2 linked regions of the Homo sapiens genome follow. The protein of the gene in region 2 purifies or fractionates together with the protein of the main gene of each other region. This does not show direct contact. Each region holds a gene or a part of one and is shown on either strand. Other genes may lie near its edges.

Region 1 (3,956 bases), 5.9 Mb from region 2:
GGCAGATCACCTAGTTCGGGAGTTCAAGACCAGCCTGACCAACATGGAGAAACCCCGTCTCTACCAAAAATACAAAATTTGCCGGGCGTGGTGGCGCATGCCTGTAATCCCAGCTACTCAGGAGGCTGAGGCAGGAGAATTGCTTGAACCCGGGAGGCGGAGGTTGCGGTGAGCCGAGATCGCGCCATTGCTCTCCAGCCCGGGCAACAAGAGCGAAACTCCGTCTCAGAAAAAAAGAAAAAAAAAAGAAAAAAAGTTAAGTAACTTGTAAAAGGTTGTATGAGTGGTAAGTGGTAGATTAGATTAGAACCCGGCTAGCCTGAATGTAGAACTCAGGCCCTCAGTCACATATCCTTTCTGCTTCCATGGTACCTGGGGGGGGGGGGGGAGGAGCCTGTTTAAAAATCCTTAATTAATTAATTTTCTTTTATTTTTAATTTTTTTTTTTTTTTTTTTTTTGAGACAAAGTCTCACTCTTGTTGCCCAGGCTGGAGTGCAATGGCGCGATCTCAGCTCACTACAACCTCCGCCTCCCAGGTTCAAGCAATTCTCCTGCCTCAACTGGGATTACAGGCGCCTGCCACCACACCCAGCAAATTTTGTATTTTTAGTAGCGATGGGGTTTCACCATATTGGCCATGCTGGTCTCAAACTCCTGACCTCAGGCGATCTGCCCGCCTCGGCCTCCCAAAGTGCTGGGATTACAGGCGTGAGCCACCGCGCCTGGCTTAACCTTTTTGAGCCTGTTTCCTTATCTGTAACAGTAGAAATATGGTAATAACATCAACTCCCCATCCTTTCTGTTTTCAGAAGATTAAATGAAGCATGTGCAAAGTTTAGCATAAAGTCTGGCACATAAGATTAAGACAAAAGTCTTAATCTTTTTATTTTTATTATCTGATTTTTATTTCAGAATAAAGTTAACCAATACAGGAAAAAAAAAACACTAAAAATGCCTGATGTCATGGATGAACTTAGGTGAGGGTTTTACGAAGTAATCTGAAGACAAATGGTAATAATGATAGAGGTTCAACTATGAAGACTCAAAGTCTTAGTATTCTGAAGACACAAATGATAGTATAGAGGTTCAACCACAGACTCTAAGCTTTAATATTCTTATTTTAAAAATGGAAAAACCAGCCCTATCTTAAAGCATTGGTGTGAAGAGTAAACAAAATAATATATGCATACAAAAGCACTCTGTAGTCTGCAAATCACTATATTCTATGAGGTATCACTCTCGTTAAATACAAAAAGTATAGGTTTGGTAAATCAAACAGAACACTGTCAATACAATTGCAAAAGACAGCCTATAACTAATGGAAACTATATATAATGTGTACAAAATACTTCCCAAGAATATTTTTATCAGCCTTTAAAGCCAGTGTTGGAGGAAATTAACTCAGAATTTAACACATATTTCCAGGAACTTTATGTCAGGAGCCAAATGTAGACTGTGGCAAATAGAAACATCGCTTCTTCCCTCCCCCTAGCCGTGCAGGCAGTAAGTAATAGCTCAATGCCAGCTCAAACACCATCCTCGATGAGGCCATCCTTGATCTCTCCAAATTGATCAAGCCATCCCCAATCCATGATCTCCCAGCACATTTGCTATTTCATTGGCATTTCATTCTGACTGCTATCCAGAATTATCAGTTGCTTCCAATGCTGACTTTCTTCTACTTTTTGAATCCAGTAAATTCACACAGAACTTCAAACACCCCAGGCAGATCGTATTGGCCGGCACTCAAATGCTTGCTCTAGAAGTTTGTATTTCTCAAATCTGAGTCTACGGCTCAGTCTGCGCTGGGGGGTAAACACACACCCTGACACACCACAGACGTAAAAATAATTCAGGGTGGAAAAAAGTTGGTGGTTTATCTTTCCCCTTCTTTATCTATTCGGTAAAGAAATGCTCTTTAAAACACCGAAAGTGAGGCACAAATGGAAATGAAAGAGGAGAGGAATGCATTAGAATATTCAAAGCTCCGTTTCTAATTCAGAACCACTTTCCCTACCTTGTTTCACAAACACACTAGGCACCTCTTGCATCACAAAGAGAGAGTATTCTATCTCCTGACTGACCCATTCTTGGAGTTAAAAGCCACACCTCTTATTCTAATACCCTCCAGGAGCACTTACTATTTACTTTTCAAATTAGGAATTCAGAGCAAAGGTCATCCTCAAGGCCAGGATAAAGGCAAAAGGTCTTGGAAATGGAAAAGACTCAATACACAGCACCGTAGGCCCCAGAGGATGAACACTAGTTACAGAGGACTAAGAAGCCCGAGGTGAGGCTCCCAGGAAATGTGTTTTAATGGGCTTCACTACACGCCACGCGAGGCTGCAGAGGGAAGTTAAATATCCCTGCGATGCGTTTCTGATGGGGCCTCCTTCGAGGCCGGTGTCTTGCCAGTGTGAGGCCGCGGGCGGTGGCAGGGCCGTCTCGCCGCCCTCCCGGCAGACCACGGGCCGCTGTCACCCTCCTCCGAAAGGCGCCCAGATGAATCCATTAATCACGGTGCGCTACCCCCATCTCCCAGGACGCGGCCTCCCATCAAGAACGCGGGTTAGCGTTTTCTCCCATCTCCGCGCCTCACGCCCCTTCCCCGCCCCCGCACGAGACGGCCCTCGGCCCCGGCGAGCGACTTATCCAACCCCGTTTTGTAGCTGTGCCCACAATCACCCATTACCTTCCCCAAGCAAATGTGGCACGTGATGGGCAGAGTGAGCGACAATGTAACATTCTGCACGGTCTGAGCCATGGCAGCGTTCAGAATCCCGCCAACACGGAAGTCCCGCCGACCTACCGCTACTCTTCGCCAAGACTGGGCACGCGCGGGCCGGCTACGGCGCCCCGGTAGGGCCATAACCCGCCCAGGAGAGAAAACGAAAACGCGCTTTCGAAACGCGCGATCTCCAAGGCGTTTTCCTTTCATTAAAAAAAAAAAAAAAAAAAAGAAAGAAAGAAAGAAAGAAAGAAAATTCACTGATTAGGGAGCTGCAAGATTCCTGCGAATGTGTAGGAAGGTAGTTTACTACAAGTATCGAGGATCTTGGAAAATCTAAAGGAAAGCGGAATAGTGGAGACAGAAGAGGAAGATACGGAAAGGCGATTTTTTAAATCCCCAAATTGTTTTCGGGGATTGGATGGGGTGAAGGATGGAGAGTTTTTCGCCTAATTATTAAACCCCACACATCCGCCAACACAGCGTAATCAAAACATAGAGAAAAGACATTATCTACACGTTTCAATTTTTTTCAAAACAGCTTTCCACCTCTGTCAGTTCTCTTTCCACTCAATATAATGTGCTTCCAGAGGGCACAATAATTCACTTAAGAAAACAGTGATTGTCTCCTTATCTGTGTCCGAGACGATCCTGATACATTTAATCGCAGCTTTCCCTGAAAATACATTTTTACTGTGGGCTTCTCTGGGTTTTCCACCAAAAGGAGATTAACGTTTTCACGTCTTCATTTCAGGTGCATGGTTGCATATGAAATGTACCGCTGTGTTGTTGAACCCCAAGGGAGAATTTGTGAGGTTATAAGTTGCGTTTCCTACCAACAAAAAAGAAAAAAACCTAAAAGTTCCTAAATTTATCTTAAATGCAGTATAACAAATTTGGAATTTATCTGCAACTTACTTGAAGCGAGGAAGAGCTGATGTGATAAATTACGCTAACAAGTAAAATCTGTGAGTTGAGAGATTTAAAGACAAGACCATCGGGACAACTTTTACTAATCTTTGTGAAAAAGACGCAGTATGACTTCAAGAAGCAGCCTCATGGTTAAGAGAAAGGGGTTCTGGACCTGGGCTGCTTCAGCGGAAATCCCTGCCCCCAACAACTTCCTACCTAAACGGTAGCTCCATGGCTTCTGGCAACTTTTGTTTTGTTTTTTGAGATAGGGTCTAGCTCTGTCACCACTAGGTGCCAACACAGCGACCTCCCAGG
Region 2 (3,500 bases):
ATCAAAGTGAAAAAAAAATTCATTTGGAAAAAATGTTATATTGTCAGTGTTTTATTTCAGAGTTAATATTTTTGACTGTTTAGAACTGTGAACTATCCTCATCTATTTTACAGTAAAAGTTGATTCTAAAATTATTGCCATGATAAACTTGTTATAATTGAAGAGAAAAACTTTGGACAATTTTTAGATGTATGTTGAATTAAATACTTCTTAATTTGTATTAAGGGACAAAGTTTATCAAATTTATATTGTTAAAAGCAATTTAATATCAATGTAAGTCTTTTGAAATAAAGTATCATTGCATTCAAACTTTGAATGGAAAAGAGGGAGGTAAGCCTAACAGCTAACTGCTGAATTTCAGAATACTGCCTAAATGTTACTAAATGTTACAAGATACCACTAGTATTAATTATAAAGTGAGCTTAACATTTGCCAGTTTTCAATGAAGGGAGATTATTTATTTGAAAGGTTATTTTTTAAAATGTTCAATAAGCTTAAGTAATAGCATGGTTATTTTTCTTCTTTATCTTTGTATAGAATAGATAAAGATGTGGAAGACAAAAGACAAAAAGCCATTGAAGAGGTAACTTAAACTGTTACTGATCATTAAATCAGTTAAGGATCAATTCTGCATGTACATCACTTCTTTTAGGAAGACTTTCTTCAATTCCTTCACTGTCCTATCTCCCCTCCAAGCCCTTCACAGTCCCATCTATATAAAGCACCCTTCTGTACTGTCCTAAGACCAATAATTTCCAGCTATCCCAGTACCTTGCATAGCACTTGCATACTGTTGTAATGATCAGTTTAGTGTTTCTGTCCCCTAGACGCAATCTTTTTTGGCCAATACTGTACTTCATCCTTTCATTCTCAGGACCTAGCACAATTTGTCTTCCTTGTGCCTTCAAAATGTTGATTAGCACAAACTTTGTTTCAAGTTGGAGTTTATGTAGAGGAAGTCGAATATTCTCAGGCCTTCAGAGTCTAGATTGGCATTGGGAATGGCTTTGTCTTTTTTTGTTAATACTTTGGATTTTTAAGATATTCATGAAATAAAATCTCTTACTGTTAAACAGGAAAGGTATATCATAATGTAGGCTTTCTAAAAAATAAAAATAATTAAGTTTTTTGCTTTTTTATGTCTGTTGAATTGCCTTTCTTAGCATCTAAATAAGGTTATTATTATTATTATTTTTTGTTTTTTGAGACGGCGTTTCGTTCTTGTTGCCCAGGCTGGAGTGCAATGGCATGATCTCAGCCCACTGCAGTCTCCGCCTCCCAGGTTCAAGTGATTCTCCTGCCTCAGTCTCCCGAGTAGCTGGGATTACAGGCATGCGCCACCACACGCAGCTAATTTTGTATTTTTAGTAGAGACGGGATTTCTCCATCTTGGTCAAGCTGGTCTCGAACTCCCGACCTCAGATGATCCGCCTACCTTGGCCTCCCAAAGTGCTGGGATTACAGGCGTGAGCCACTGCGCCTGGCCCAGCATCTAAGTAAGGGTTACTTACCTTGTTCTTTCCTCAGAAAGTCTTTATGTGATGGCAGCATTTCTGATTTTTACTTTTCTGCCCCTCTAGCCCCCTCAACCCTCCTCTGTTCCTTAGCCGTACTTGGCTCTTCCGTACCACAAAAGACTATGTTTACTCCTGCTAAACATTACCTACTTCTTCTTCTATCTAGTAACTGCACAGTTTTCATTCTGACTCAGTCACTTGGTTCTTCCCCACCTGAATATTCTCAGACTCTCAAAATTTCCAACATTTTGAAAAAATACTTTCTTTAAGAATCCTTAATTTTAAAGAGAAACCCAGCAGGTAAACTTAAGAAAATTTGTTTCTTTTCAATATATATTTTTGAAAATAGAAGAAACATATACATATAGTAAAAACAAAAAGAAAAAATATAAAATAAAAAGCCTCCTGTTTCCCCATCCCACTTCATGAAGGTAATGACTATAACATTTCTTATGTGTACTTTCAGATTAATTTTACTTATTTAATAGCATATGTCCTTAAAATATTTTCGACAAATAGGATTATCATTCTCATACTATTATCGTTCTCATACTGCATCCTCCTTTTTTTGCTTCATGATTTTTCTTAGAAATTTTTGATAACCAGCATATACAGATTTTTACATTCTCTTAGCAACAGCATAGTTACCTAGCCCCTGTTGACAGATGTTTAAATTGTGTTTATTATTTTTCTGTCACAAATAATGCTGCAGTGATTTGTATATATATCTTTATATTCTTGAAATGGACCTAGTAAGTCAGAGGCTTTGTGAATTTTCAGTTTTGGTAGATTTTACCATATTGCCCTCCTAAAAGGTTATACCAGTTTATACTCCTGATTACAGTGTGACACTGCTTGATTTTCCATATCTCCAATATTGATTATTATCAGAATTCTTAATTTGTTCTACTCCTATTACTTTAAAAATGACTTTTTTTTTTTGTATTTCTTTACTTTTGAGTGAACTTATACATCACTTTGTAAGTTTATAGGTCCTTTAATTTTTTTTCTGGTAATTGTCTATATCTGCCCCAGTCCACCTTTAAAAAAAAAAAAAAAAAGAATCTTTTCCTCTTAGATTCATGGGTAATTTAGTTAAGAAAATTAGCTCTTTGTCATATGTATAGCAAAATATGAAGAAAATATGTTTGGTTACTTGCAAAACCTAGGGAAGGGAAAACACTGTGGTAGAAATGAAAGAGGAAAGAAAAGTATACAAATGCTCTATCTCATTTGAATATACTGGCCAGTAGTGTGCTGGTGAATGTTTAACAACTTGCTCTCTGGTCGTGGAAGGAGTACGATTTATAGCGATTCCTGCTATCCATAGTGTAAGTACTCCAACCATGGCCAGTTTCAAGCTACTGATGTGACATCACTGAATGGGAAAGGAAGAATAGTGGCACACCATTATATGTAGGAATTCCACCATACAGATACAAAATACATTATTAACCTCAAGAGCATAGACATTGATAAATATATAAAATAATTAGCAAGTGGTGAGTTTTGGATATTTGTTACCTTTATTTTTAATATATTTAATTGTAAGTTTACATAATTTTATTTTTAATATTGGTTTTAACAACTGGTGCACAGAATTCTTGAAAATTTAATAATCAGATCTTGAGAGCCAGAACAAACAAGCCAGCTTCAGTGCCGTCATTCATACTGGCCTACTTGCATGTCTCTGTCTTAATATATTCCTTCCCTTTTCATCCTTTTTTTTGTAACCCCATCAAAAAAACCTGGGAAAGAAATTTAAAATACTTTGTCTATGATTAATCCTCTTAGTTTAGTTTGCAAGTTTCAAATTTAACTGGTTGATTTGAAGTATTAAGATTCCTCTTTATATATACTTTAAATTTCTTCCATTTTTCCTTTGGTCATTTGTATTAAAATTTTTGCATACAGTTATAAAGTTAGTATATGACATGTTTAATAATTACTTGGAAAAACACAGGTACCGTCTCACATTTTGGG

The links. Proteins that work in one complex are often made in the same cells at the same time.
Region 1: the proteins of BORA (region 2) and OBI1 purify together in Homo sapiens (affinity purification with mass spectrometry; one large-scale study listed by BioGRID and IntAct). This does not show direct contact.

What each region holds. Positions count from the first base shown.
Region 1 is NC_000013.11:78,656,356-78,660,311, forward strand, and holds the start of OBI1 (ORC ubiquitin ligase 1), read right to left. Parts: upstream 2,801-3,956; 5' UTR 2,766-2,800; coding exon 2,694-2,765; intron 1-2,693. UniProt on the Homo sapiens protein: E3 ubiquitin ligase essential for DNA replication origin activation during S phase.
Region 2 is NC_000013.11:72,734,423-72,737,922, forward strand, and holds part of BORA (protein aurora borealis), read left to right. Parts: intron 1-537; coding exon 538-583; intron 584-3,500. UniProt on the Homo sapiens protein: Required for the activation of AURKA at the onset of mitosis.